2 linked regions of the Homo sapiens genome follow. The protein of the gene in region 1 purifies or fractionates together with the protein of each later gene. This does not show direct contact. Each region holds a gene or a part of one and is shown in the gene's direction. Other genes may lie near its edges.

The links.
Region 2: the proteins of HVCN1 (region 1) and PIGR purify together in Homo sapiens (affinity purification with mass spectrometry; 2 studies listed by BioGRID and IntAct, with this or other methods). This does not show direct contact.

What each region holds. Positions count from the first base shown.
Region 1 is NC_000012.12:110,681,494-110,698,336, reverse strand, and holds the start of HVCN1 (voltage-gated hydrogen channel 1), read left to right. Parts: upstream 1-9,221; 5' UTR 9,222-9,257; exon of another isoform or gene 9,258-9,541; intron 9,542-9,628; 5' UTR 9,629-9,712; intron 9,713-15,072; 5' UTR 15,073-15,091; coding exon 15,092-15,112; intron 15,113-16,843.
Region 2 is NC_000001.11:206,938,407-206,952,950, reverse strand, and holds the start of PIGR (polymeric immunoglobulin receptor precursor), read left to right. Parts: upstream 1-6,484; 5' UTR 6,485-6,615; exon of another isoform or gene 6,616-6,683; intron 6,684-12,366; 5' UTR 12,367-12,419; coding exon 12,420-12,462; intron 12,463-13,487; coding exon 13,488-13,832; intron 13,833-14,544.

The sequences.
Region 1 (16,843 bases):
CCAATGTTAAGTCTCACCGACTTCAACAGACAGGAAAGGCTGGGCATAGAGGCTCACGCCTGTAATCCCAACACTTTAGGAGGCCAAGACGGGAGGATCGCTTGAAGCTAGGAGTTCAAGACCAGCCTGGGCAACATAGTGAGACCCTGACTCAACAAAAAAATAATAATACAAAGCAGACAAGAAAGATCCTAAAGGACTGGAGAACTTGACCCACGAACAGTAGCAGCACCCCCTCTGTCTCTGCGGGCAGAGAAGGAGCCCACTGAGAATCCTGTATTGGGAGCCAGGTTCATGTTCTAGCTCTGCCTCTTACCAGCTGTGTGGCCTTGTGAATAATTCTCTGAGTCTCAGCCTTAGCTGTGAAATGGAGACAAGATGCTTAACGGCCAGACACAGTGGCTTATGCCTGTAATCCCAGCACTTTGGGAGGCCGAGGTGGGCAGATCACGAGGTCAGGAGTTCGAGACCAGTCTAGCCAATATGGTGAAACCCCATCTCTACTAAAAATACAAAAATTAGCCAGGCGTGGTGGTGTGCACCTGTAATCCCAGGTACTAGGCAGGGCTGAGGCAGGAGAATCGCTTGAACCTGGGAGACGGAGGTTGCAGTGAGCTGAGATCGTGCCACCGCACTGCAGCCTGGGCGACATAGCAAGACTCCATCTCAAAAAAAAAAAAAAAAAAAGATGCTTCGCGCTGTGAGTGGCATATAGTAAGAACTGAATCAATGGGTGTTCTTGCATTCCAGGTGCTATGCTAGTCTTGGGGGGACTCCAGTGTGGGCCCCTCCAGCTGTCCTCCCATTTCTCTGCTCCCTTCAAGTGCTTTTGTATCTCCTTTCCACTCTCTCCCTCTCTGCGCTGTTCACCCTATCAGTTTCCATCTGACACCACTTATTCCTTCCTCTTCCTCAAAACGCTCCTCTTTTGGTTTCCAGGATCCCACACACCCTTGGTTTTTCCTTCTACCTCTTGGCTACTCTTTCTGTCTCCTTTGCAGCCTCTTCCTCACCTGCCCAGGCCCTAGCTTGGTCCTGAACCCCTTTGTCAACACTCTGGAAGGGGATCACAGCCCAGGCCTTGTTGTCAATACCAGTTGTGCACTGATGACGCCCAAGCCTCTCTGCCAAATTCCTGACTCAGATCCTACTGCCCAGGTGACACCTCCACTTTGACAATTCAAATAAAACATTATCAAAAATGGGGACATCCTCCACCTGGCCCCCTCCCAGGCTTCTCTGCTTGATGGAGGGCACCACAGTGCACTCCGGTGCTCTGCCCCTTCCTCTCCCCTACATGTCCATGCCACCCACAGTTCCCCCCTGTCTTTTCTGTCTCCCACATGGATCTGGAATCATGCCCCTTTTTCCTTCCCTACTCCCAACCGACTTGTCCAAGCCATCCTTATCTCTCCTCTACACTTCCATTTTTATCTTCCCTATAATCTAATCCCAGATTTATCTGGTTTATTATATAAACCAGAGTTATCTTTTTTAATCAAACCATATCAGTGGATGGAAGGATAAGCAACATGTGGTAGACCCATATAGTGGAATATTCTTTGGCCATAAAAGGAATGAAGGACCATGCTACAACATGGATGACGCTTGAAAACATTGTGCTCAATGAATGACACCAGACGCAAAAGACCATATATGATGATATTCCATTTAAAGCAGGCAAATCCATGGAGACAGAAAGTAGACTAGCAGGTTCTTAGGGCTGGAGGGAGACAGGAATGGGAGGAACTGCTTCATGGGTACAGGGTTTCCTTTTTTTTTTTCTTAGAGATGGGGTCTTGCTATGTTGCCCAGGCTGGTCTCCACCTCCTGGGCTCAAGCAATCCTCCTGCCTCAGCCTCCAAAGTGATTGGGATTCCAGGTGCATGCCACTATGTACGGGGCCTTTGACAGTGTTTCCTTTTGAGATAATGAAAAGGTTCTGGAACTAGATAGCAGTGCAGCTTGCACAACATTGTGAATGTACTAAATGCCACCAGCCGTATGCTTGATAATGGGTAAAATGGTAACGTTTATGTTATGTGTATTTTACTACATTTTTTGTAAAAAATCAAATGGTCCTGGCCGGGCACAGTGGCTCACACCTGTAATCCCAGCATTTTGGGAGGTCAAGGTGGGCAGATCACCTGAGGTCAGGAGTTCGAGACCTGCCTGGGCAACATGACAAAACCCCATCTCAACTGAAAAAAAAAAAAATTAGCTGAGCATGGTGGCGGGCTCCTGTAATCCCAGCTACTCAGGAGGCTGAGGCAGGAGAATCGCTTGAACCTGGGAGGCAGAGGTTGCAGTGAGCTGAGATCGCGCCATTGCACTCCAGCCTGGGCGACAAGAATGAAACTCCATCTCAAAAAAAAAAAAAAAAATCAAACGATCCCTCCCCTGCTTAGAACTCCCATGGCTTCCTGTGCTCCACATGGACTCCAGCCCCTTCTGTGGGCCTCCGGCCTCCTCCCCAGCCTTACTTCTTATGACTCTCTTCACCCTCCTCTGTGCATCCACAATCTTGGCCTCCTTTTGGCCTCATAAGGCCAAGCTCTTCCCACCTCAGGCCCTTCGCACATGCTGTTCTCTCTTCTGAAAAGGTTGTCCCTCTCTCTTCATAGCTGCTTCTACTTCAGCTTTCAGTGTCCGTTTAAATGTCACCTCCTCAGAGACCCCTTCCCTGCTGTCCTGCCTCAGTGGATCTGCATCTCAGTCTCCACCTTTTGTTATCTCCACCACAACCCCCAGCTCATTCCTTTGCAATACTTCATTGTTTTCAAGACAGGGTCCCACTCTGTCACCCAGGCTGGAGTGCAGTGGCGTGATCACATCTCACTGCAGCCTTGACCTCCCAGACTCAAGCAATCCTCTGGCCTCAGCCTCCTGAGTAGCTGGGAATACAGGCATGCACCACCACACCTGGCTAGGTCATGTGTGTGTGTGTGTGTGTGTGTGTGTGTGTACACAAAATAAACAAAATATATGTAATTATACAATTATAATTATACAATTATAATTATAGAAATGTTTATATATAAGTGTGTGTGTGTGTATATATATGTGTGTGTGTGTATATACATATATGTATGTAGAGACAGAGTCTCACTATGTTTCCCAGGCTGGTTTTGAACTCCTGGCCTCAAGTGATCTGCCTGCTTCAACCTCCCAAAGTGCTGGGATTGCAGGCGTGAGCCCCCGCACCCAGCCCCCTTTTCAATGCTTATCACTTTGTAATTTGTCGTTTAGTATTTGTGTGCCTCCCTATATAGACTAAGTTTAATGAGGGCAGGCAGGACCTGCCTGTCTTACTCAACTCTGTGTTCTCTGCCTAGCACATAGTTGGCACTCAGAAACTCTTTGCTGAATTGATGACAGATCACCCAGCGGGCAAGGGAAACCATTGAGGCAGGATTTACACCCAGGCCTCTTTGATGCAATGCCTGTGTTCTTCCTACTCTTCTGTGTGACTCTGAACTGTGAGGCAGAAGGCTGAGCCGAGTGCCAGAGAAGAGAGTTGGAGGTGACCGTGCCCTTTTCACATAGCTGCGTCATCAGGCATCGGTGCCCAGGCCTTGTGCAGATCCCGTCGTGTGGCCGTCACTGCTGTAGATAAATCTTATCTGCTGGGAAAGGCACCTCTGGGCCTAAACAACAGATGTCACTCTAAGAAATCCCAGCAGAACCCCCACCCTGTCTCTGGCTGAGAACTCATCTACTTTTCTCTCCCTCTGTCCATTTTCTCACACTCTACCAGAGCCAGGACAGGGCTTTTGCCCTAGGAAGGGAAGTGGTCAACTGTAGCCGTTGATAACTGCCTTGGAGGAACCAAAACCAGCAGAGGCAGCCCTCTCTCTTCCCGCTGGGGAAAGCCAGAGCTGGCCACTGCCCTGGCCCGGCCCCAGCTGTCCTGGAGCCCAGGGATGGCCCAGTCCCCCAGGGCTGTACTCAGATCTTCCTCAAAATGCTCCATGTGGCCAGGCGCGGTGGCTCATGCCTAGAATCCCAGCACTTTGAGAGACCAAGGCGGGAGGATCCCTTGAGCCTAGGAGCTTGAGACTAGCCTAGGCAACATAGTGAGACCCTGTCTCCACAAAAAAATAAAAATTAGCCAGGTGTGGTGATGCATGCCTGTGGTCCCAGGTACCCAGGAGGCTAAGATGGGAGGATAGTTTGAGTCCAGGTGGTCAAGGCCGAAGTGGGTAGTGATTGCACCACTGCACTCCAGCCTGGGTGACAGAGCAAGACCCCATCCCTAAATAAGTAAGTACACGCTCCATGAACATCAAAAGGCAGGACACCCAGAAAATTCAAGCAAGCTGGGCTCACTGCTTGGTAAGAAATGCGGAGGACCGGGGGTGGGGCAAGGACTGCCTTGTGTAAGAGAACTGCTTTGGTATTGCCCAAACCGGAACAAGTCCTTCATCTAACGCAGTTCCTAATCTTTTTGTAATCTGGGGCCTTTGACATCTGGGGAAGCTTCTGGACCTCTTCCAAGAGTAATGTTTTTCAATGCATAAAACAGAACGAATGCATCGTATTACAAATGATGCCAGCTATCTTGCATTGAAGTTTTGAATTTTTTTTTACTTGTAATAAATAGATGGAGTTCTTATAGTACACATTAAACTATAAGAACAGCTGGCTCAGTAACTACTATAATTTTGAAGTAATGATACATATAAGTTATATTTTGAGATATCTCCAATAACTATACTGTGGTTTAAAAACATCTGTGATTTTGACTGATGACAAAGTTAGTGGGTTTTTTTTTCCGTTTTTTTTTTCTTTTGAGATGGAGTTTCACTCTTGTTGCCCAGGCTGGAGTGCAGTGGCGTGATCTCAGTTCACTGCAACCTCCACCTCCCGGGTTCAAGCGATTCTTCTGCCTCAGCTTCCCAAGTAGCTGGGATTACAGGCATGCGCTACCACACCCGGCTAATTTTGTATTTTTTAGTAGAGACAGGGTTTCACCATGTTGGCCAGGCTGGTCTTAAACTCCTGACCTCAGGTGATCCACCGGCCTCAGCCTCCCAAAGTGCTGGGATTACAGGCATGAGCCACCGCGCCTGGCCAGTTAGTGACGTTTGTAATGCAACTGTAATTTGTTACCTACATTCATAATTGAAGGAAATATTAAATTTCAGTTAAAGGCCAGTGGCTCATGTCTATTATCCCAATTTAAAAAAAAAAATTTGGGGAGGCTGAGGCCGGAGGATTGCTTGAAGCCAGGAGTTTGAGACCAGCCTGGGAAACAAAGCAAGACCCCATCTCTACAAAAAATAAAAATAAATAAATAATAAATTAGCTGGGTACAGTAGCATGTGCCTGTAGTCCCAGCTACTTGGGAGGCTGAGACAGGGGTATCACTTGAGCCTGGGAGTTTGAGGCTGCAGTGAGCTGTGCTCGAGCCACTGCATTCCAGCCTGAGCAACAAAGTGAGACCCTGTCTCTAAACAAACAAACAAAGTAATAATACGTTTCAGTTAGAGGTTAATGAAAATAAAGAATTTTTTTCCCACCCAAGTTAATAGACCTCCTGGATTCTTTCTGTGGACCTCAGCTTACTCTTCCCTAAGTTGTTTTGTTTTTGTTTTTGTTTTTGTTTTTTAAGAGACAGGGTCTTGCTCTGTCACCCAGGCTGGAGTGCTGTGGTGCAATCGTAGCTCACTGCAGCCTCGAACTCCTGGGCTCAAGGGATTCTCCCACCTCAGCCTCCTGAGTAGCTGGGACTACAGGGGCACACCACCATGCCCAGCTAATTTTTTAAAACATTTTTTATAGAAATGGGGTACTGTTCTGTCACCAAGGCTCATCTTGAACTCCTGGGCTCAAGCAGTCCTCCCGCCTCAGCCTCCCAAAGTGCTCAGACTACAGGTGTGAGCCACCATGCCCGGCCTTCTCCTTTAAGTATTGTTGGCCTCACTTTCCCAACTAAAATGGGAGCTCACTAAGAACAAAGGCTGTTCCTTCATCTTATACTTAGTACCTTGAAAGGGCCTACCACACAGTAGGTGGTCACGTGTTAGTCTGTTAGGTCTTTTGGATTTTCTAGGTAGACAATCACATCGATTGCAAATAATAGTCTTTCTCTTTTCAGTCTTTGTATTTCTTTTTTCTTGTTTTATTGCATTGACTGAGCTCATCAGTGAAATGTTGAATAGTAGCAATGATGGAGGGCACCCCAATCTTATTATGCTCAATACTCATTAATTTATGCAATAGGAATGTAAAGTACCTACTGCAGGTCAAATCCTGTGCCTGGGGATAACAGTGTAACACATTTGAGATCTTTTCCTGTCCACTGAAATGCCTGAGCAGTAGCAGTATTTCAGTAAACACGACAATGCTGAGAATATCACCAAATTCTCCAGACTTGCTGAAGTGTTCCTTTGGGATCCTGGTTCCCAAAAAGTATGGACATAGGTCCCTGCTGGTGGCCCCAGGTTCCAGGCCATCAGTAAGGTTGGGGGCTGCAGACTGGACCACTGCACCGTGGAGCAGAGGCAAGTACCCAGGGAGAAGACTGAGCGATGCCTCTGTAGGGGAAGGGATGGGGGAAGGTAGCCAGGGGATCAAGCCAGGCCAGGGTTTGAGCCTTGCCTTGCCTTAGCAGGGTCTGTTGAGGTCACCACCTGTCTGCACTAAGGGTCTAACTACAGGCAAGACCAGATGTTAAGACAGAGGGCTGCAACTTCCAGGTGTGCAACTAGGGGACGGGGTACTTGTTCCCTTTTCCCTTCCTCAACCAGAGGGGAGTGAACACAGAGGAGGGGCTGTTGGGAGCAGTCCCCACATCCTCTCCACTCTGTCTAGCTGGCCCTGGGGGAGGAGGAGAATTTTTAATAAAATATAAGGAAGTTGAAGTTGAAAATGGACCAGACTATGCCTTAGAAACTGGCATGGGGCTGTTGTAATAATACATGACTGAGAAGTCAGGAGATCTGACCAAAATGTTTTTAAGAAAGCCTTCTGGCCAGACGCGGTGGCTCACGCCTGTAATCCCAGCACTTTGGGAGGCCGAGGAGGACGGAGCACGAGGTCAGGAGATCGAGACCATCCTGGTTAACACGGTGAAACCCCGTCTCTACTAAAAATACAAAACATTTAACCGAGCGTGGTGGCGGGCGCCTGTAGTCCCAGCTACTCAGGAGGCTGGGGCAGGAGAATGGCATGAACCTGGGAGGCGGAGCTTGCAGTGAGCCGAGGTCGCGCCACTGCACTCCAGCCTGGGTGACAGAGCGCGACTCCACCTCAAAAAGAAAAAAGAAAGCCTGCTGCAGTCCAGGCATGGTGTTTCACGCCTGTAATCCCAGCACTTTGGGAGGCCGAGGCAGGCGGATCACTTGAGGTCAGAAGTTCGAGACCAGCCTGACCAGCATGGAGAAACCCTGTCTCTACTAAAAAAACAAAAATTAGCCAGGCGTGGTGGCAGGCACCTGTAATCCCAGCTACTCAGGAAGCTGAGGCAGGAGAATTGCTTGAACTCAGGAGGCAGAGGTTGCACTGAGCCAAGATCATGCCATTGCACCCCAGCCTGGGCCACAGAGTGAGACTGTTGCCGGGTGGAGTGGCTCACACCTGTAATCCCAGCACCTTCGGAGGCCAAGGCAGGCAGATCACTTGAGGTCAGGAGTTCGAGACCAGTCTGACCCACATGGTAAAACCCCGTCTCTACTAAAAATACAAAAATTAGTCAGGCATGGTGATGCTGGCCTGTAATCATAGCTACTCGGGAGGCTTGAGGCAGGAGAATTGCTTGAACCCAGGAGGCGGAGGTTGCAGTAAGCCAAGATCGCACCACTGCACTCCAGGCTGGACGACAGTGAGACTCCGTTCCAAAAAAAAGAAAAAAGAAAAGAAAGCCAGCTGCCCAGCAGAATTGGGGAAAGCCGAGTCAGTTGAAGCAGACAATACCCCTATGGGAGGCAGAAGAATGCACCCCCCTACCAAGATATCCACATCCTAACCCCTCCAAACCTGTATGTTGCCTTAAGTGGCAAAGGGGACTTTGCACATGTGGCTATGTGAAGGATCCTGAGCTGGAGAGATTAGCCTGGATTATCCAGGTGGATCCCATATAATCACAGGGCTCCTTAGAAGGGAGAAGACGCTGTGACCATGGAGGCAGAGGTCGGATTGAGACAGCCAAGGATCACAGGCACCTCTCCAGCCGGGAAAAGCAAGGAACACACTACCCTGGCGCCTCCAGAAGGCACAGCCCCACCCACACCTTGATTCTGGCCCTGTAGGACCCATCTGAGACTTCTGGCCTCCAGGGCTGTAAGATAACACATTTGTGTTAAGCCACTAGGTTTGTGGTGATCTGTTAACAGCGGCATGAGGAAACTAACACAACCCCAAGGAGGTGAGCCTCTCCCCACAGCCCCGACTCAACCGGAAGGGAGAGGTGTGCAGAAGACGGCTTTGCAGGATGTTTGGGACAAATGGTCTCTGGGGGAAGACAGAAGCTAACAGAACTGATTCGACTGTGTGAACAGGGTGCTGGGAGGGCCCACAGGGGAGGGACTTCAGAGCTGGGCCTGCGCCTGCGGGGCCGTACGAGTTGGCCCGGAGCAAGGCGGCCCAGGACAGGCAGGGGCTGCACGCGGTAAGGCTCCCTCTTGCCAGTACCATCCCATGAGCAGCCTCAGAGCCCTCGACCAAGGGAAGTTCTGAGGGCTGAGAGGTTGCTCATTCGTCAGAGCGTGCTGCCCACCCTCCACCCCTGCATGGCAGAAACTGTGCAGGGGACGAGGCCAAGGAATCAGGAGACCCAGAGGCAGGGGTGGCCCGGAGACGGTGGGATGGAGCAGAAGCTCCCCGAAAGGGGTTGGCGGGGTGGATTCGCCCCGCTCCAGCCGGCGGAGGAAGGAAGTGGTTCCCCCGCCCACCCTTCCCTTAGGCTGGCCCGGGGCAGGATTTTTGTGATCCGCGATTCGCTCCCACGGGCGGGACCTTTGTAACTGCGGGAGGCCCAGGACAGGCCCACCCTGCGGGGCGGGAGGCAGCCGGGGTGAGGGAGGTAGGGACGAACGGGTGGACTGACCACAGGCAGGGACAAGGGGACTAAGACCCGGGCCGAGGCCTAGAAGCCCGCCGACCGTTGGGGGTCTGCGGGCTGTGGGGGCGGGGACGGGGGCGGGGGCGGCCCGGGCGGGGGCGGGGCCTGGTACGGTACGGGGCGGGACGGGCTGGGCCGGACCTGCTCTGAGGCTCCCAGTCGCAGCGGTGACCGCGGGCGGGTGGGGCGCCGGGTAAGTGCTCGGGCCGGGCGGGGGGCGTACCCCGTTTGGCGTGCAGCCCTTTCTACAAGACCCCCAGTGCCCGATCCTTCCGAGAAGAGGGGACCCCCCCCCGCATCTCCGCTGTCCAGGCCTCGCCGTGGAGCCCCAGCAGGACCCCAGCCCTCGGTTGCCCTCGGCTCTGGCGTGTCCCGGCGCGGGCGGGCAGTGCTTCCCCTCGGCAGGGACTGGAGTCCAGGGGAGGGGAACGCGGGAGACGCTGGCCCTAGTGACCCCCCGATCCCGGAGAGTTGGTGGTGCGCGCCGCCCTGGGCCAGGTGCCTTCAGTTCTTCACACTCCGCGCAGCAGCCACAGGTGACCATCGTCGTCTCCCTCTTAACAGGTGAAGAAACCAAGACGCAGAGAGGCCAAGCCCCTTGCCTTGGGTCACACAGCCAAAGGAGGCAGAGCCAGAACTCACAACCAGGTCTGTGTCCCCTAAGTCCTCGGATGCATCGTCCCTGCCCCGCTGCCCTCCCGGGAGATTGTAGGAGAGAAGCAGGGGCAGAGGCAGTGCTGGATGTCCCGGGAGAAGGCTGCAATGAGCAGGCCCAGCCATCCCTGAAGGAGGAGCCCCGGGGAAGCAAACTCTTCCCTAGAAACACTTTAAAAGCACCCACCTGTTGGAGACAGAGATGCTGAGGAACAAGAGTGATTGGGGCCAGGGTAAACGCCAAGACAGAGAGGGGAGAGCAGTTCCTCAGTGGAACTCCCTCCAACATTGCCCCCACCACTTTTACCAGTGCTGGGTGTGGGGGATCTTGCAGGCTCAGCTTCGTGACTTGGCCTGTCTCTGCCTCAGTTTCCGCATCTGTCCCATGAGGTTAAGCATGTACCTACCTCGCAGGATTGCTGAGAAGATGATATAAGATGCTTGGTGTACAGGCTTAGCCCCTGGCACCAGGTTACTACCAAAAGTTCATGGTTCCAGTGCTTCCTCCACCCTCCGTCCTGCCCCTCTGAGAGTACTTCTCTGTCCTGGGCACCTTTAACTTCAGGTTGTTCAGGGCTATCTGAGATCTGCAGGATTTCCGGACAGCCCCACCAGCAACTAGGAGCTGCTTGAGTAAGACCAAGGTGAGGGGGTGGCAACTTCTCTGGCTGACTCCCCAGAGGGAAAGGCTGATAAGGGCAGGGTTTTGAAAATCTCTGGGCTGAGGCTTGCACAAGGTCCAGAGCTGCTCTGTGGCCCCTGCCCTCCCCGACACAGGTTTAGCAAGAAGGAGAAAGCCAGAGTGTTCTTGTCCCCAGACTTGATCCTTTGCTAGTCATTGGGGCTTGGGCCCTGGGAGCTGTCATCCACCACCCCGCTCCTCGTCCCTTCCCCACAGTCTAGGCTAGCGACAAGTTCTAACCCAAAGCATATCCTGAATCCGGCCACCCCTCCACCCCCTACTTCCACCCTGAGACCAGGCCGCCAGCATCTCTTGCCGCCTCATCACGCTGGACCCCTCACTTCCATCCAAATCCCCAGCATCGCCTGCCAAGCCCTCTCCATGATCAGGCCCTGTGTGATTATTCTCAATTTTTCTCTCTGGCCACTGTCCTGTCCACTGCTGTCCCCAGCCGCCACCTCCTAAGTACTCCGCTCTCTCAGGGGCTGTGCACAGCACACGTGTTCTTCCTTTTCCCGGGAATGCTCTTCTCTGCAATCTGTGACATACTCCCTTGTAATTCAGGGCACACCATAAATGTCGAGTTGTCCCTGACCACCCCACTTAAGGAGACCCCGCCTGCTCCCTGGCCCCTTACTCTGGCTGGCTGGCTTCCCAGTGCTTAGCTGGGGGGGGGGGGTGTGGTCTGTCTTGTATATTTCCTTGCTTCCTTGTTTGTCTCCCCAGGTAACATGTCAGTCTACCAGGATCGTGATCTTGCCCTTTCCTCTTCACCTTGGATTTCCCAGAACCTGGGAAATCAGTGCCTGGCACCTAGGAATGGCTCAGATAGTTTTGTACAGTTGCAGGCAATGTGTCAGCCATCAGCCTATTTTTCTTCTCACTGCTTGACAGCATTTTTTCTCCCGTTTCTACATAGACTTCAGAATTATCCCTCCCAAGAGCCCACTGCCTTCCTCAGCTTTTCCCTAAAGTAGGGCTTGGGGGTTGAGGGCCACTTCCAGGTTTTAGCCATACTATTCAACTTAGCTATAAATATCATTGTCCATATTGTGCATGTTTTTGGCTATCAAATGGCTTCTTGGAGATACAGTTTCCTAACCAAGGTGTGCAAGTCAAGGGTGGGATCATTTTGGAAGCACTTACCTCTTGTGACCAGGTAGCTATTTAGAAAAATCATCCCCAGGAATGTGTGCACATTTCTCTGCAGCTCTGCAAGCATTGGTTTTTATCCTTTTTATTTGTTTTGGCTAGTTTAATGGAGAAGGGCATGGTAGTTTTAAAGTTTCTGTTGCTTGAATTGCTGAAGCTGAGTGTTCCTCTGCGTGTGTGCTAGTTCTAGCTCCTGTCTTGCAAAGGTAGGAAATCTCCAGGGCACCTTAATTTTTCCCTTCACCTCCTCTTGTGGTGATGGTTCCACTTGAGCCCCTCTCGTGAGAGCAGGTTGAGAATCCCAGGGGGCTGGTATAGGGACATGCAAAGCTGAACTCTGCTGGGTCCAGAAGTTGCTCTGCCAGTCAACCAGCGAGAAAGTCTAAGAGTCCCTTGCACCCTCAGCATGTAACTGTGGGGAGAGAAAGAACCTCTTTAAAGTTTTCTTGAAAGTTTATTTCAAAATAATTTTTTAGAATTAGGCCAGGCACGGTGGCTCATGCCTGTAATTCCAGCACTTTAGGAGGCTGAGGCAACGGATCACTTGAGGTCAGGAGTCTGAGACCAGCCTGGCTAACGTGGCAAAACCCCGTCTCTACTAAAAATACAAAAAAAAATTTTAGCTGGGCGTGGTGGTGGGCACTTATAATCCCAGCTACTCAGGAGGCTGAAGCAGGAGAATCGCTTGAACCTGGGAGACAGAGGTTGCAGTGAGCCGAGATCATACCACTGCATTCCAGCCTAGGCAACAGAACGAGACTCTGTCTCAGGGGAAAAAAAAAATTATAGAAGTTACATAGAGGGATCAGGTGCAATGGCTCATGCCTATTATACTAACACCATGGGAGGCTGAGGCAGGAGGATCACTTGAACTCAGGAGTTTGAGACCAGCCTGGATAACATAGTGAGACCCCCCTTTCTACAAAAATTAGCTGGACTTGGTAGTGTGTGCCTATAGTCCCAGCTACTCGGGAGGTTGAGGTGGGAGGATCGCTTGAGTCCAGGATCTTGAGGCTGCAGTGAGCTCTGATCGCACCACTGCATTCTAGCCAGGGTGACAGAGTGAGACCCCAACTCCAAAACAAAACAAAACAACAACAACAAAAAAAAAAGGGTGTGCAGGGTTATTTATGGAAGCGCTGGGGTGGGAGGAGATTGGAAACAACCGTAAATGTCCATCACTAGTAGGATTAAACACATTCCTACAGGGGACTCATGTGCAGCCATGACAAGGCGTGCACTTCATACAGGACACACTGGCATAGAACCACCTCTGAGATACTGTGTTAGTCTTCTGTGGCTGCTGTAACAAATGGCCACAAGCTTGGCAGCTTAAGATAACACACATTTATTATGCTACAGTTCTGGAAGTCAAAAGTCCACAATCGGTCTCAGTGGGCTCGAGTCAAGGTATGGGCAGGGCTGTGTTGCTGCTGCAGGCTCTGGGGGAGAATCTGTTTGCTTGCCTTCCCAACTTCTAGAGGGGCCCACATGCCTTGGATTGAGGCCCCATCCTCCATCTTTAAAGCACTGAATCTTCAGATCTTTCTGACTCCAGCCTCTGCTTCTGTCCTCACAATCTCTTCTTTCTCCTGCCTCCACTTATCAAAGACCCCTCTGATGACATTGGGTCCACTAGGATAATCCAAAATCATTCCCTCCATCTTGAGAGCTGCAACTTAATCATGTCTGCAAAATCCTTTTTGCTATGTAAAGTAATATACAAGTTCAAGGATTAGGGTATGTGCATCTTTGAAGGGGAGCATTATTTTGCCTACCACACCCTGAAGGGAAATAAGGTTCACAGCAGTATGTGGGTTCACATTTGTTTACAAAAAAAATAAAATAAAAGGTTGGGGGAGAGTATCTACTCATGTGCTTGTGAGGGCATAGAATACTCCAGAAGGCGACGTAGGAAACTGGTCAGAGGGTCAGAGCGACCACTTCTGGGAAGGATAATGGGTAGAGGGGAGACTGACTTGTCATAGAATATCTTTTTGTATAATTTAAACTTTTTACTACATGCATAGATCACCTATGTTAAAAATAACGTTTTAAAGTAACACCTACTCATTGTAAAAGTTCACGCCTCCCAGAAGCAGAGAAGGAAAGCCCCACACCCAGATCACTCCCTTTTCTTCCAAAGATAACCACTGCGAAGAGTGATCCTTACGGACCAAAAAAAAGCATCTGTATTTCTTTTGACTTAGATGGGGTCATCCTGTAGACTCTGCCGTAATGTGACTCCTCTGTTTGCTCTGTGGCTGGCGTCTTTCCACGTCCATATGTGAATACTCAACAGCACTAGCAGCTCCTGCTGCTCAGAGGTGCATTCACTGATATAGCTGGTGGTGGGTGTTCAGAAGGTTTTACTGTTTTTCAGAGCAACCCCAACACTGTAATGTCTGTCTTTTTTCAATTGGAGTGAAATTCACATAATGTAAAGCTAACCATTTTAAAGTGAATAATTCAGTGGCATTTAAGTACATTTCACAGTGTGCGGCCTTCACCTCTATCAGAACATTTTCACTGTTTTTCTTTGTATTAAAATTAATAATATATCATTTTGCTTTTTAAAAAATACCTTGTTAGCTGCACAGAACATTTGCATCATCCCAAAAGGAAACCCCCTAATCCATTAAGCAGTCACTCCCCATCCTTCCCTGTCCCCAGCCCCTGGCAACCACCAATCTGCTTGTTCTGGACATTTCATATCCTGTTCCGGACATTTCATATCAATGGAATCATACAATATGTGACATTTTATGTCTGGCTTTTTTCACTTAGCATGGTATCTTTGAGGTTCATCTACATTGTAATAAGTATCAATACTTTATTTCTCTCTCTTTTTTTTTTTCCTTTTTTTTTTTTTTTTAGATAGAGTCTTGTTCTGTTGCCCAGGCTGGAGTGCAGTGGCACGATCTCGGCTTACTGCAACCTCTGCCTCCTGGGTTCAAGCGATTCTCCTGCCTCAGCCTCCGAAGTAGCTGGGATTACAGGTCCCCACCACCATGCCCAGCTAATTTTTGTATTTTTAGTAGAGACGGGTTTTCACCATGTTGGCCAGGCTGGTCTCAAACTCCTGACCTCAGGTGATCCACCCACCTTGGCCTCCCAAAAGTGCTGGGATTACAAGTGTGAGCCACCACACCTGGCCCCCTTCATTTCTTTTTATGGCCAAATAACGTTCCATTGTGTGGACAGACCCATTTTGTTGATCCATTCATCCATTGATGGACAAGCGGGTCGTTTCCACCTTTTGGCTTTTAAGAATAATGCTGTGAAAGCCTATGAACTTTCGTGTACAAATAAGTATTTGTTTGAGTCCCTGTTTCAGTTCATTTGGCTCTATATCCAGGATGTATGCCCTCCTACATATACTTTGTACTTTACACTAATTTCGGGCACAGTTAAAACTAAACTAACTTAAAACTAATTTGTAAGAAAGGATTACAGAGCACATACCAAGGCAGATGGCAGCAAGATGATAGATCTGGACAAATGTCTTTTTATTTTTCAGATCCAGAGGCAACAGGGACATGGCCACCTGGGACGAAAAGGTAATGGATTCTGTGGTCTTGCAGCATTAGAGGATATCCCAGCCTTGAGAGGATAATTCTGTTTGGTGTTTCAAACAGGAGAGGGAGAACTCCCTGTTCAGGTGTTTCCACTATACTGAAATATTTAAAATCAAAATGATGAAAAGCTGTAAAAGGACTTCACAAAACCTCCAAGTAGCCTGATATTCCACATCAGACCATTTGAATCCCAGCCCTGTATGTTAATAACTATGTGCGGTTTTTTTTGTTTTTTTTTTTTTGAGATGGAGTTTCACTCTTGTTTCCCAGGCTGGAGTGCAATGGTGCAATCTCAGCTCACCAGAACTTCTGCCCCCCAGGGTTCAAGCGATTTTCCTGCCTCAGCCTCCCAAGTAGCTGGGATTACAGGCATGCACCACCACACCTGGCTAACTTTGTATTTTTAGTAGAGATGGGGTTTCTGCATGTGGGTCAGGCTGGTCTCGAACAGTGCATGTTAATAACTATGTGTCCTTAGGCACAAAATAACTGTGTGCCCTTCAATTCCCTGAGCCTCAGTTTCCTTATCTGGAAAATAGTGAAAAGATTATTTACCACCCCTGCCCTTGCAGGATTGTCGGGAAGATTTGATAATACAGTGGTCTCAGAATGTTAGGCAAGTACTGAGCCCATACAGGGCTTGGGCACAGAGAAGTAAAGTCACTTCTGAAGATCACACAGCTAGAAAGTGGCAGAAATGGGATTTTAGGCCAGGTGTGGTGGCTCATGCCTGTAATCCCAGCACTTTGGGAGGCCAAGGTGGGCAAGTCACTTGAGGTCAGGAGTTCAAGATGAGCCTGGTCAACATGGCAAAACCCTATCTCTACAAAAATACAAAAATTAGCCAGGCGTGGTGACATGCGCCTGTAATCCCAGCTACTAGGGAGGCTGAGGCAGGAGAATTGCTTGAACTTAGGAGGCAAAGGCACGGTGGCTCACGCCTGTAATTCCAGCATTTTGGGAGGCCGAGGCAGGTGGATCACCTGAAGTCAGGAGTTTGAGACCAGCCTGGCCAACATGGTGAAACCCCATCTCTACTAATAGTACAAAAATTAGCCAGGCATCCTGACACACACCTCTAATCCCAGCTGCTTAGGAGGATAAGGCAGGAGAATCGCTTGAACTTGGGAGGCAGAGGTTGCAGTGAGCCAAGATCGCACCATTGCACTCCATCCTGGGTGACAAGAGCAAAACTCCGTCTCCAAAAAAAAACAGAAATTGGGATTTCAACCTGGCCTGACTCCAGAGGAAATGCTTTCCTCCTGTACCTTATGGCCATCTCGAGTAGGAAATAGACTGTGTCTTTGATATGTGAGGTGCAGGTTTGTTGGATTTGGGGGGCATTGGTTGTGAAGATTGGGGGCAAGGTAGAAAGGAAGTGTTGACTTTCACATCAGCTGTTCATCTTGAGGTTCTGGGGGCCTAGCCAGGCCAAGCTGGCGAGGGCAGAGCAGGAAGCTCAGGGCAGCAGCAGGGGTGAGTGGGGCAGAGTCTGAGAAGCAAATGTGAGGGTCAGAATGACCACGGGATGATGATGATGATGATGGTGATTGTGTATTTCATCAAATTGATGACCCTGGTAACTGTAAGAGTTAGGAGCCCCAGGAGCTCCAGGTATCCTTCATAAGAGAGTCAGCATGGAAGAAAGGTTAAGTGGGAACTGTTCATGCTTTTCCTTCATTTGTAGTTCCCTATTAAATTAGGCAAACCAAA
Region 2 (14,544 bases), on another chromosome or scaffold:
GGAGTGCAGTGGCACAATCTTGGCTCACTGTAACCTCCACCTCCAGGGTTCAAGCAGTCCTCCTACCTCAGCCACCTGAGTAGCTGGGATTACAGGAGCACGCCAGCATGCGCGGTTAACTTTTGTATTTTTAGTAGAGTATTTTTCACAATGTTGGCCAGGCTGGTCTCGAACTCCTGGCCTCAAGTGATCGCCTCACTTGGCCTCCTGAAGTGCTGGGATTACAGGTGTGGGCCACCACACCCAGCCTCCAGGGCCTTTTATGTTCCACTTCACTCCCCGCTCCCCACGGCAGGCTCCTCAGGGCTGGACACAGGCAATCTCAGGGGGCTCTTACCACAGTTTCTACCTTCACTCTTTCACCAGCCAAAATGAGAAAGGGTAGCAACAACCTCCCCACTCTGGGAGCCCCAGAAGAAATGTTGTTTTCACTTTCTGACTGAGAGGCAGCTGAGCTAGGAAAACAGTGAAGAATGGGACATCAGGGCAGTGACACAGGGAGGCAGGTGGTCAAGGAGAAGGCAGGGCCTCAGTGTGTTCATAGAGGAAAGTGAAAAGATTTGAGCATTGCATGCACACGTTTGGCCAGTGAGTCACCTCTCCAACACCAACTGAAGACTAGAGCTGCTAATCTGACAGCGGCCTTCCTTCCCTCTTCACGTCCCTGCACGCTACCACCCAGCTTGCCATCCTTTGACTTCCCTGATTAATGTTGTTCTTAGAGTTGACACAATGCTGCCCATTTGTACATGCCATATGCCCTGAGCTCTTTAGGAAGGACTCTAGGAAGCCCCTAGAGAATCACCAATAGTCAGGGTCTTTCTAATGAACTCTTCCCTCTCCCACCTGCCCCTTAATAGGGAGACTCACCTGGGAAAAGGTTTAGGCCTTTGAACATAAATCTGGGCTCAGAAACTCCCAGAAAACATGCCTAAATGCAGCCAACCGGAACATTCAAGTTCCAGCTCCCCTAGTGGGATTCCAAGTAGTGGCTTCACAAGGAAGCATGTTGCCAGCCAGCAGCATTGCCAGCTGGGTAACAAGGGCAGTGGTCCCCACCCAATGCTCTTCTCCCCCAGCCCAAAAGGAAGAACTGAAACAGGAAGAATAAACGCTGTGCTCCTACCACTGAGTGACAGCTAGGGTCAGCAAACGCCATACCACTATCTGCTAATGGGAACAGGTAGCATGAATAATTCCAAACAGCCAGTATCCTCTAAAAAGGGGGGGAGAGTTTATTTAGCTTTGGCAAATTCAGTCACAATTTTATTCTTCAGTGGTTGATTCTAAAATGACTCTGTATTTTAGGCTAGATGAGGAATGCTGGATTGCAGGGCTGGCTGGCCTGGGATTAAACATTGACTCCAGTCAGGGGTTAAACATTGACTCAGGTGAAGATCTGTACATAGGAGCAGAGAGTTGGCAGTAAAGAGCATTTCCTCTGTCCCTCTTATCTCATTTTTATGGCAAAAGCCACACTCAAAGGAACCATCCATGTGGAGGGATGCCCGCTGAGCAGTGGAGAGTGAAGAAGGGCTATCTAGCTTCCCTTTCTCTGTTGGTGATTGTGTCAACCCATGGTTGTGGAGCATCAAGCTAAAGACAGCCTGAAGGGTTGGATTTGTGTGAGCCTGTGGGCTTGGTCATCTGCAATATTCTCTGGCTAAACCAAGGGTGTAAACGGACGTCCCTTGCTGTCTGTAGAAATATCATCCAAAAAATTCATCCTGACAGCAAAAGTTTTGGGAAGTGGAGGAAAATGCTTTCTAGAAAACCTTGGTTCTAGACCCATCTGTGTGATGACCTCCTGTGCAAACTGGAGCAAGTCATTTCACTTTTCTGTTCTTGGTCCTTCATCATTCAGTGGAGAATCACTCTAGTTACGCCATCATGTTCTGGTACATGCTCCTAGTAGTCTCCAAAACTGTCTTAGCAGACAGTGCCAGACACGTATGCATGTACACACACACACTTGCCTTTTGCTGTCCCGTTTATTTGCTGCTGAATCATAAGCGCCTATTAGATGCTAGTCACTGAACATATTATAGCTAATCTTTTTTTAGATTTTTATTTTGGGGAGATAGGGTCTTGTTCTGTCACCCAGGCCAGAGTGCAATGGTGCAATCATAGCTCATTTCAGACTGCAACTCCTGGATTCAAGCAATCCTCCCACCTCAGCCTCCCAAGTAGCTGGGACTACAGGGGTGTGCCACCACCCTGGCTAATTTTTTTGTTTTTGTAGAGACTGGGTCTTGCTATGTGGCCCAGGCTAGTCTCCAACTCCTGACCCCAAGTGATCCTCCCACCTTGGCCTCCCAAAGTGCTGGGACTAGAGGTGTGAACCACTGAACCTGGCCTATACTTAATCTTTATAACATACCTATACAGTAAGTATAATTTTCCCCAGAGACATTAAATAATTTGTTCAAGGTTCCCTGGCTGGCAGGTGGTAAGGCTTGGATGTGAACCCAGGGCGTCGAGGTCCAGAGCCCCTGCTCTTTTCCCAAGGCTACACAGGCTCTCTATGCTTGCTACCTCCTGGCTTGTGTTGTTCCTTGACAGTATTGCATGTGAGTGATGACTTCTCAATTGGACTACTTGCCCTTGTGGAACAGGGGTGCACTCTCCTGCATGTCTCAAATCTCCCTGGACCTTGAGCTTGTCATGGTTGGTAGGCCGAGAAATAACCACCATCCCTCTTCCCCAAGGTTTGTCTATGTCTCAATCTCTGGAGCCCAGAAGTGTGACCTTATTTGGAAAAGAGTCTTTGTAGATGTGATGAAGTTCAGGATCTTGAGATGAGGACATCATCTTGGATTAGCTGGGTGGGCCCTAAATACCATCCATATAACAGAGAAACAGAGAGTTATTTGAGACATACACAGAAGCCAATGTGACTATGAAGGCAGAGGTTGGAGTGACACAGCTACGTGCCAAAGAACACCAAAGAATGTCAGCAGCAACCAGAAGCTAGAAGAGGCAAGCAACGGATTATCGTCTAGAGCCTGGAGGGTGGCCCTGCTGGCACCTTGATTTCAGGCTTCTGGTCTCCAGAACAGAAAGAGCATACATTTCTGTTTTCTTAAGCCACTAAAGTTGTGTTAATTTGTTATAGCAGCTGTCAGAAACTAATACGGTGCTCAACCAAAACACAGAATCCTAGAACTGAAAGAGCCTTGGGAACAATTTGGCACTGTCCTCTGATGGAACAAACAATCCTGCAGACCTACAGGATGAAGTGATCTGGCAAAGGTCACTCGGCAATTAGAGGCAGAATCAGGAACAAAACAAAGGTGTTCCACAGTGACTTATGCTGAGTCCCAGAGTCAGGAAAGTCCAGTGAGAAGCTGTTCTTCTGCTGGTATATTTTCTTGTATGATTACTTTAAAAGAAGCAGGGAGGGTTGAGCAGATGAAGTGTTGTAAGTTTGGAAAGTATAATCACTGCTGTTATCATCATTATTATTGATTTGGGCAATGGACTCTCTTGGCCTGTCCCTCCTCCCCCAGGGCTGAGAAATAGTACTATTTTAGGGCCACTGGGTTCCAGATGGGGAAACCACAGTGCGAGAGGGGAAGCAAGTGAGTCCAATCACACCACCGGCGTGTGGCTGAGCCCAGAATAGGACGTAGGATTTTTGACTCCCTGCCTCTTCCCAGGGCTCTACTTCTCATTTTCCCCTTTCTGTAAACTGGATCAGTAGGATCAGTGGGCTCCAGGTATGTGGGGTGTGTGTGTGTGTATGTGTATGTGTGTGTGTCTGACATGGGTCAGCTAAGACAGTTTTGGAGACTATTGAAAACATGCAGCAGGACATGATCTAGTAAATTACCCACCATCATGAAATAGCAAAGCAGGGAAGGAAATCTGCAACCTGTCCTCCACGCCCACCAAGGCAGCATGAGAAGAAATGATTTAATGAGTGTTCTCCCCTTCCTCCCTGCAAGCCTTTGCTCGTCAAATTTCTGCACTAGTGTTCTGTGAACCTGCCTTGACTTCTACTCCAGCCTGGACAACTGGACACAACTTATTTCTTGCTTTGGGAAGGAAGAAACAAACCCTACAAATATTTTGACTATTGAGTTCAAATGGAGAGAGGTATAAATCGGGAATCCTTTGAAAGGAGCTATAATCTGACAGAACCAGGCTTGTCTCATCTCTGCACCTGCATATCTTGTCTCCCCTCGCATCCTCCTGCTAGACATTAACCCCAGAACTGGGGAGGAGAAAGACTGCTGAAGAGTAAAAAGGAGAGCTTAGTTACTGATGTGTCTTGGTGCCCTCCCACCCACCACCATGGGGCAGAGTCCAGGCTACAGTAGGGGAGAGGGGATTAACAATGATAGAGATATCCAGGTGGGCTTGAAAACTCCAGATTGAGGGGCCCTCACCTTCGCCCATCCTGTAGAGAACTTTGGTGGTCCACAGTCTTGCTGATATCCATTGTACCCCCAATTATATGGGAACACTGGCACACAGGAGGTTACAAGAGTGTTGGGGGAAAATGTGACTCTGCTGCACAGGATCTCCCAAAGGCCTCAGGAGTCTGTGATCAGCCAAACTCACCCTGCACCCACAAGGTGGGCAAGGAGAGGCTGAGGGCCTGGAAGACCCACCCCAGGGAGCTCAGTGTATGGACTAGGAGGGCACAGTGTGGACCACAGAACCCTCAGGATGAGCAGGGACAAAGCCCACTGACCAAGCAGGGGAAGTCACATCTCAGTAGACAAAACTATTTCCTTCTGGAGCCCAAGGCCAGCACAGCATCGTGACAAAGCAAGACCAAAATAATAATGGGCCACCCCTTTTCACTGCCTCAGCAGTAACATTGACCACCCCCTCACCCAAGACCGCTCTCTCCAGACTGGACCCCAGGGGAGAGAAGGGAGACAAAAAGGAAGGGAACTCCATAATGAGGCTAAATTTTAAATCTGGAGTGAAGTGACTGAGAGATCACTGAATTGGGCTGAGCTTGCCTAGAAGTGACTAGGTAACTTGTTTTCTTTTATCAGTCAGATTATGGGTTTAGGGTTTGAAATTAAGCTACATCTGGAAGCCATCATCCTCATCAAACTAACACAGGAACAGAAAACCAAACACCACATGTTCTCACTCATAAATGGGAGCTGAACAATGAGAACACACGGACACAGGGAGGGGAACATTACACATCCGGGCCTGTTGGGGGGGGTGGGGGGAGGGAGAGCATTAGAACTAATAGCTAATGCATGTGGGGCTTAATACCTAGGTGGTGGGTTGACGGGTGCAGGAAACCATCATGGCACACGTTTACCTGTGTCACAAACCTGCACGTTCTGCACATGTAATCCTGGAACCTAAAACAAAATAAAAAAAGAAAATCTAAGTTTGCAAACCACAAAAAAAGAGAGAAATTAAGCTACATAAAGAAATTATGGGGTTTTTTTGCTTGCCATTGAAATCTGTGATTGTGTGTTAACACCCACAAGTGAGCCAGTGGTTAGCTAAAATAAGACCCAGGGCTCTGGCTGCCTTGTGTTTCTCCAGGGCTCTATTTCTCTATTTTTCCTTCCCCTTCTGGTGTTTGGCCTATAGGACTCTGTAGGGAGAGCCTGGGTCAGCCCTGCACAGGTAGGATGGGCAGCATTTCTGTGGGGGTTTGCAGTGAGGGGTCGGGGGGCCATACACGTGTGTGTTGGGGAGTGGGCTTCACTTTTGTCACAGGACTGCCACGATCATTTGGGGAACACCTGGGAGTCCCAACCAGGTCATGTTTTGGCATGGACTAACAGATAGGGAAGGAGGTGCTACTTCAGCTCAGCAGGTCAGCACCGTCCTTGCTATGGAGCCGAGCCCGGGTCCTAACAAGACTCTGAGGTCAGCCATGTTCAGGGGAGCCCAGAAGCAGCGAGTCTTTCATGACTCTGGGGAGTGAAACAGGAAGGGCCACAGTCCTGCCAGTTCCTGGAGCTCTGGGACTGGTAAAAGGGGCTTGGCAGGAGGTGTATAAGGGGCATTTTTGTCCAGGCTAAGTAACCTAGGGAGTCGGAGGGGATTCCAGAGCAACTGGGGATATGAGACCAAGGACTACGACAGCCACTCCTGCCACCTGTGCCCCATCAGATGATGTCAACTTCAAATCAAGCATTGGGCCAGGTATTTTAGAGCTAATACCGGGCTATATCCTCTACCTGTAGATTTGGTATTACCATCCCTCTTTTCCAGATGAAAAGAAATAGGAAGGTGACTTGCCAAAGGTCTTGCAGCTAGAAAGCGACAGAACAGCATCTTCACGCTTGACATTCTGTCCCTCATCCTGAAGCTGCAACGATGGAGGATTCCCAAGTAACAGAGTCTCCCCAAGGTCAAAGGAAACCAAATGGAGCCAGCCAGGAAGGCCAAAATGAAAGGAAAGCAAGGGATCTGTGAGAGTCACATGACCCTGGCTGGCCACGGTGCCTGTGGGAGAGTGGCCCTTTAAGAGCCCAGGTGTGGGTCAAACACTGAGCAGAGTTTCAGTTTTGGCAGCAGCGTCCAGTGCCCTGCCAGTAGCTCCTAGAGAGGCAGGGGTTACCAACTGGCCAGCAGGCTGTGTCCCTGAAGTCAGATCAACGGGAGAGAAGGAAGTGGCTAAAAGTAAGTGTTACTGCTCTGGGATCCCCAGACGGGATGCTATCTGGAAAGGGCTCGGGACGATGGCTCAGGTAACCCCCTCCATTCCCAACTCCCAGTCTCCTAGATAGTGGGGTGACAAGGACAAGGAGGCAGACTGTGTGACTGTGTGTGGCTGGGGAGTAAGCGTGCATATCGCAGTGGGACGAGTAGGGATGCACGTGTGTGGAAGCCCCCCATCCTTTTCTGAGAAATATCAGCAGGTGGGAAGGGACCTCTGTGGTCAGCATATGTAATTCTACTCTTTCAGCTTGGTCTGTGCCTGGATTTCCTAACTCCTCATAGTTGATTAACTGTGTGGCCTTAGACAAGCCACCTAACCTCTCTGATCCTCAGTTTCTTAATCTGTAAAACAAAGATAGAAATAACACCTATCATTCAGGGTCAATGTGGGTTCAAATGAGAAAACACAGGTGAAATAGCTTTGTAACCTCTAGAATGAAATAGGAATTGTTTCATATTTTTCAGTTTAGTTTAATTAATCAAGGATTTATTGAACACCAACAGACCTGGAATTAGATAGTGCGCATAAAGTATGGCACCTAGCAAGTCCTCTTCCATTCTTTGAGGTTTCCCACTTGTGGCTTTCTGGCAAAGGCATGTTCAGCTCCTTTTTTCTGGGCTTCCAAGAACCTCTGAAATCCTTTGCAATTCCACCTCGCTTTGCTCTAGCAGATTCCTGCCATGGGAGACATAAATGTGTGTCATCGCATCATCCTGCCCTTCCTAGAGGTAGAAAAAAAGAGGTCCTCACGGGATCACTGAGTGAGGTGGAGCTGAGCCCCACAGGCAGCATGATCAACTCCTGCTGTTCCTCCTGGCTCTGCAGCCAGCAGATCTCAGACATGGGCTTCCCCTCCCTTTGCCCATCCTGACAGCAGCCCAAGCCAGCAGTGGGACCGTCCGGCACAAGGGCAGCAGCGGGTCAAGCTCCATCCCTGACCCCCAGTTCCCTTTGTGCAATTGCCACAGTGCCTGGGGCCATTGAAGCTGCTCCTATTTTGTGCCATCACTTTCCCCCTTCACTAGGGGAATTATAGATCCTTTAACATCTGGAGAGGAGATGCCAATTTCAGGGGTTTAGGTAGAAGGCAGCTGTCTGGTGCCTGGACATAGGTCTTCCCAGAGCCAGATCTGGAATTCTCTCTCCATCCTTGTCCCGCCCCTGGATGTGCTAAAGTAGCAGAAAGAACACTGAGCCAGGAGTCAGGAAAGCAACTCTCTCTGCTTATCTCCTAGTGCCGCTAGACCTCTGTGGCTTTAGGTGATAAAAAATGGGGTCACACAGGCTTCCATTTAGTAAACCCACTTGCCCTGGGCTTTCACACCTTCGTCTCATTCTCCCTTGATACCAACGAGGAGGTAGGCAGGGTTGGTTTTGTGATGTCATTCCCTAGTTGAGGAAACCAAGACACCGTGAGTCTATGTGAGTGGTGTGAAGTCACCAGCAAGTTTGAACGATGAGGTTTTGGTACAGCCATTTTGATATGGTCATGAGGACATTTTGATGTCACCTAAAAAGCAAACTATCCAACTTAAAAAAAAATACCTATGCATTGTGCTCAGCAGAGACCTTCATCTATGTCTTGCCCTCTCTCTGGAGGGGCTGGGGCTGGAGTCCCAATGTCACTGGCATCGACACAGTATGGTGGAGTGGAAAGAGGCTTTGGCGTCAACATGCCTGGTTATACCCATGGTTATGTAACATATCCTACACATGGTAGGTGCTAAATAAATAGCAGCTAATATTTTCCAGGAAGAAATTTCTCTGTTGGCACCTACCTCTGGGTCCAGGTGTCTCTTCATTTTTTAATTTTTTATTTTTTTGAGATGGAATCTTGCCCTGTCACCCAGGCTGGAATGCAGTGGCGTGATCTTGGCTTACTGCAACCTCCACCTCCTGGGTTCCAGCGATTCTCCTACCTCAGCCTCCTGAGTAGCTGGGATTACAGACCCATGCCACCACACCCAGCTAACTTTTGCACTTTTAGTACAGATGGGGTTTTACCATGTTGGCCAGGCTGGTCTTGAACTCCTGACCTCATGATCCACCCACCTCAGCCTCCCAAGGTGCTGGGATTACAGGCGTGAGCCACTACGCCCGGCCCCAGGTGTCTCCTTATAAGAACTGCCTTTTCCGTGAAAGGCAGAGAGGAAAGAACTGAACAAATTCTCAGTTCGCTAAGATTGAATATCCTGCTTCTTCCTCTCTCCACTGCTTCCTCTCAATAGGAAGACCCTCTGAGGTAAAGCAGAGTGGCTAAGGGCCTATGCTCTTGATCTAGAATCCCATCTAAGTCACTTACCAACTGTGCAACCTTGGGCAAATGTCTCACCTCTCTGTGCCTCAATTATCTCACTCATGAAATGGGGTTGCCCATTTTGTCCCATCTCCTATGGTGGCTGTAAAAATGGAACACATTAACACATGTAAAGCACCTGGAAAGGACTCAGCGTACGTTCTTCTAGCCTAGCCCATAGTGCTTGTCTCCTCTCTTATCCACATGAGTCCAACCTAAGTAGCTCACTCTCCATCTCTCTATCTTCAAAGGATGTCCAGCAAGCAGACTTCTACTCTCATACCAAGTCCAGGGGACCTTTCTTCCTCTGAAAAAGAGGGAAACCTGAGATTAGATGGACAAAGGTTTGGACTCCACACCATGAGAGATGAAGTGCAGTCACTTTAACTGAACAGGAGCTAGTTAAATACATTTTATAAAAAGAAAAACTATCCTTCAGCACAGCTTACACTCCTGCCCCAATCCACAATTGTGGGGACATATGTTACACATATGTTGGGATACTAACTTAGTAAACTGAAAATGATCTAGCACATCCTAGCCTCAGCAGTGAAAAAACAACTGCTAGTTTAAGGACCAGAAAACGTGCCCTCATGCATGATATAATATCATATATATAAAACCCAATAAAGCAGGTCCCTTTGCTCATTTAAAGAGTGATAATGGGGTAGTGACCTCAAATTAGGATTCTGCTGTGGGTCTTGGGGTCGAGAATCCCTATAACCCTTAGATTTCCAACCTGTGTCATGAGGATAACAACATCTATCTCTTGGGTTGTTGTGCTGATGGATGAAGTCTTACAAGAAAAGAACCTAGCAAAGCATTTGGCACGTAGCAGGTGCCCAACATTATGTTCTTTTTCTTCCTTCCTTAAGCAAATCCTTTAAATCCAGCCCCAGCCACCCTGGGCTGGGGAGGTCTCCCGAGATTTGAATCCCCAGGTTTGGAAGAAAGTCTCTGGTTTTGAGAGGAAGGGGTCTGTAATGATTCTGAAAGCTCGAGGTCCTTTCAAATGCTACTAGAGAAATTGTGCTTCAAGTTTTAGCTTTGGGCAAAGAAGAGCTCCTGTTCCTGAAAGCAGGGGTATCCTCTCCTGCCAATCATCCCATCTAGGACTGGACTGTGTGCATCCCGCTGATGTTGCCATCTGCCCGACCTGCCTGTGCATGCCTGATGCTCTCATCCCTGGCTTGAGACCATGCAGAGGGTAATGGGTGCACACACATGTCCCCTCTCTACACAAACATGCACAGCCACCCAAACATGTCACAAAATGAGAAGTCTGGGACAGAGGTCAGGGTGGTCTTCACCTTGGAGAAGCTGGCATCTGACTCTCTGCAACCCAGGCCAAGTCCAGAGGAGGGCTGCATCCCCCAGCTCAGCTTGTGGGAAGACCACTCCTGTCTCACGCAAATATGAGGCAGCTTGCTTATCTAGAGGTGAGGACAGGAACAAGAAGCAAGGACAGCTGCTGCTGGTGTGGGTTCTTAAAAGCAGGCAGCATTTTGTCCTCCCACCTGTGACTGCACCCACCCTGTGCCAGCACAAGTAGAAAATGGTAGATCTCCCAGGACTTTGCAGCCAGCCCATCCCAACTGTTTCTGAGACTTCCTGGCCTCCTGAAAGCTGCTCCCACCTGGGAGCATCTCCCATGGCAGCTTGCAGTGCCCACGCAGGTGATGACATCCCAGCTAGTGTCCCCTGATTGCTTCCATGTTGGAGCTGACTGGTATTTGGCCAAGGCCCCACTCCAGGCATTAATCATTGACCTGGTAAGAAAGGTCTGGGGCAATTAACCGGACTCAAGAGAGCCTCAACGTTGCCATCTGACACCCATATTTGTTCCCACTCCCTCCCTTTATTCTTCCAAAGAACTGCAGAAACAAAATACCTTTATATTCACAAGGAAATAAAAGGTTCCTTGCTGGGAAATTCCCCTGCAACAAAGAAATAACCAAGATAAACAACTCTATTGCCTTTGGCTCAAGCTGGTGAAGGGAGTCTGGGAGCAGGAGCAGGGGCCAGGGTGGTGAGGGAGGTCTGGGAGATAACGCCCAGCTTCCTCCTGCTTACAGCGTCCTTATCTTTATGGGCACTCATTACTGCCCAAACTTACGATCATTTAACACTCTCTTTGTCAAGACAACTCCAAAGTTTAAAGTCTGTCAAAGTCTGGGAAAGTGGAGACTTCTGTCTCCTCCTCTAGGCTGTAGTTGGGGTCTTGATGACAGCTGCTGTCAGGCAGACCCCTGGGACCCTCAACTCTCCTCAGCCCTGGGCTGTGTCCACGGTGGAGACAAAGTCCACACAGGCTGCTCCGTCTGAGTGGTCTCATCTTCGATTCTTCATCTTTGTCTGCCAGGCCTTACCAGGCAGGATTACAAAGACCCTAACACCTAAGCTTTTAACCCCAATTCCATAACCAAGTTGCTGGGAAAACGTAAGCCTATCATTCAGCATCTCAAGACCTCAATGTTTTATCCATAAAATGGTTGTGATTATACCCGTCTGTCTTATTTCAAGGGAACATATAAAGCTCAAATGAAATAATGTAAATGGTAGTGCTTTCATAAGCAACAGGGTCTCTACAAATAACACAAATAAGCATAAGGTAAAAGCATGCTCTTGTATTTGGGGTGCGATACAGTAGTGGAGAGGTTAAGCACATGGACTTTGCAGTCAGACAAAGGTGGGCCCAAATCTTCCCCGACCCCCATTCTGTGTACCCCCACACATTTAACCCCATGTGCCCTTGAGGAAAGTACTTAACCTTGAAGCCTTCATTTCCTCCCATGTGAATGTGGATAAGGATACTAACCTCACAGGGCTGATATCAAGTCTGTATGAGATAGTACACATAAATTATTCAACACAGTGCCTGAGACAGAATAAGGGAGCAATCAATGGGGTTAGGACCATCATCATTACATTTACAGCCTTAATAATCATGACACCTCCTCTGTGGGTCTCAGTTTCCTCATCTGAACACACTGTGAAATATGTCAGCCCGCTTCACCTCCCAGGAATGTAGGGAGGGCAGCTGAAACAGAGAGATGGGGGCCACGTATTGGTAGGAACCAATCACCCAGCAAGCCATTCCTGAGATCTTACGGTGTGCCTGGGACTGTGTCTCATGGGCAGGGAAACAGAGCAAATGACACAATATCTCTATCCCAAAGGAGCTTGCAGCTTAGTTGAGAAGACAAAAGCTACTTCTAGCTATTAAGGATATACAAGTGTTGAAGGATGATAAGACTTTGAATTGTTATGGAAAAAGTGGAGGCACTGATTCATTCAACAGGATTTATGTCAGTTGCTGGAGATACAAAGCCAAATAGATGTCACAGAAACTCTAAGGTCAACTAGTCTTGGAAGACAAGGGGCGCTTCATCTCCTTGTGATTATTGTTTTTCAGCATTGCACAGGAGAAGTCGGCCTGAGTGGTGCGGCGCTCGGGACCCACCAGCAATGCTGCTCTTCGTGCTCACCTGCCTGCTGGCGGTCTTCCCAGGTGTGTCTGCCAGGCCCCAACTCTCCAAGCTCCACCCCTTCAGCCTGCCCGACTCCAGGGTTCACCTCCCTGGGGACACTAAAATCAGACTCATCCCCAGGGATGTCCCTCTCAAAGTTGGCACTTCCTTGAGGAAGAGTCATACAGAGAAGACACTGAAAGGCCACATCTGTGAGCATTGGAAGTCAGGGACAGGAATGGCACTTCCTAATCTCAAGGCCAGGGGTCTGTGAAAGATCTTCTTTGAGAATAACAAAGACCTTAACTTCAACCAAGCATCTCTATGACCCGCTGTGAAATCTGAGGGAAGTCACTTATCCTTTCTGGCTCTCAATATTTTTATCTGGGGGAAAAAAAAGAAAAGAAAATCATCTACAAAGTGCTTTTAGAAATATAAGGAAATAACACATGGCAAGTGCAAACATGTAACACCTTACGAAAGTGGTGTTATTGTTTGAAAAAACAATGGATGGCTGGATGCTGGCTCACAGCTGTAATGCCAGCACTTTGGGAGGCCAAGGAGGGTGGATTGCTTGAGGTCAGTAGCTCAAGACCAGCCTGGCCAACATGGAGAAACCTTGTCTCTACTAAATAGAAACCAAAATTAGCTAGCATGCACCTGTAGTCCCAACTACTTGGGAGGCTGAGGCATGAGAATCGCTTGAACCTGGGAAGCGGAGGTTGCAGTGAGCCGAGATCGTGCCACTGCACACCAGCCTGGGCGACAGAGAGAGACTTTGTCTCAAAACAATAAAAATATATAAAATAAAAAACAAGGGTTATCATAAATTTGTCATTCCCTTGTCCTTGAAATGGTTATCATTAATGAATAACAATTCCAATTTAATCATGATTAAAACAGTCACTTTATTTAATCTCAGCAATTTTCCAGCTGTGATATATGATAAATTATCAACACAGGGCCTACGTGTCAGGTAGAAAACCACATCTACTCATAGTGGGTTATCTGGAACAGGCTTTACCTCCCAAGGGCCTCAGAAAGCCTCTCTCTTCTGTTCCCACAGCCATCTCCACGAAGAGTCCCATATTTGGTCCCGAGGAGGTGAATAGTGTGGAAGGTAACTCAGTGTCCATCACGTGCTACTACCCACCCACCTCTGTCAACCGGCACACCCGGAAGTACTGGTGCCGGCAGGGAGCTAGAGGTGGCTGCATAACCCTCATCTCCTCGGAGGGCTACGTCTCCAGCAAATATGCAGGCAGGGCTAACCTCACCAACTTCCCGGAGAACGGCACATTTGTGGTGAACATTGCCCAGCTGAGCCAGGATGACTCCGGGCGCTACAAGTGTGGCCTGGGCATCAATAGCCGAGGCCTGTCCTTTGATGTCAGCCTGGAGGTCAGCCAGGGTAAGGATCCAAGCTCCTTGGGCTTCTGGGGGAAAGTTAGAGGGAATTCTCTAAGGTGCATGGAGGGCTTGAGGAGGAACTTCCTGACAAGGATGTGTAGCCGGGTTGGGGGTCAGAAGGCACCCCTTTCCCCAGGCAAAGACTTCTTTAACAGGAGAAGGAGACAGATAGGGCCTACTTGGGGGTGATGAGTGAACCCTTCTAGGACTTGGTGGCCTATAACATTTTAGGCTTTCTGGAGACCCCAGCTTAGAAGGGTATCAGAAGGACAAGTTTTCTGGTGTTTGCTACAGGTAGAAAGGGAAATCTGACATCAGGCTAAGGAGATAGAAAAGGTAGGGAGAGATTTACAGGGATCCTTAAATTCCTATCATTAATGCACCTTTCCATCAAGGTTTGGGCCGCCAAAAGGCTTCTTGTAAAATGCATATTTTTTTTTTAACCTGGGAACCCTTAGTCTTTTGGTATTATCAGGGTAAATTAGATTATTAGATCTTGACCAAAGACCAAGATCCTGAAAGGATGGGTTGCTAACAAGCCTATTCTAGTTGGAGAAAGAGAAAAAAAGAAAAGCTCTTTCTGACAAGGGTTTAACAATGAGGCTGTTTTAGATAGTCAAGGGCAACTCAAAAGAGAGGTCTACGGAGAAAAGAAATTCAGGGGGACTCCCAAAGACATGTCTTGCTCCTTTGGAATATGCATACTATTGTCT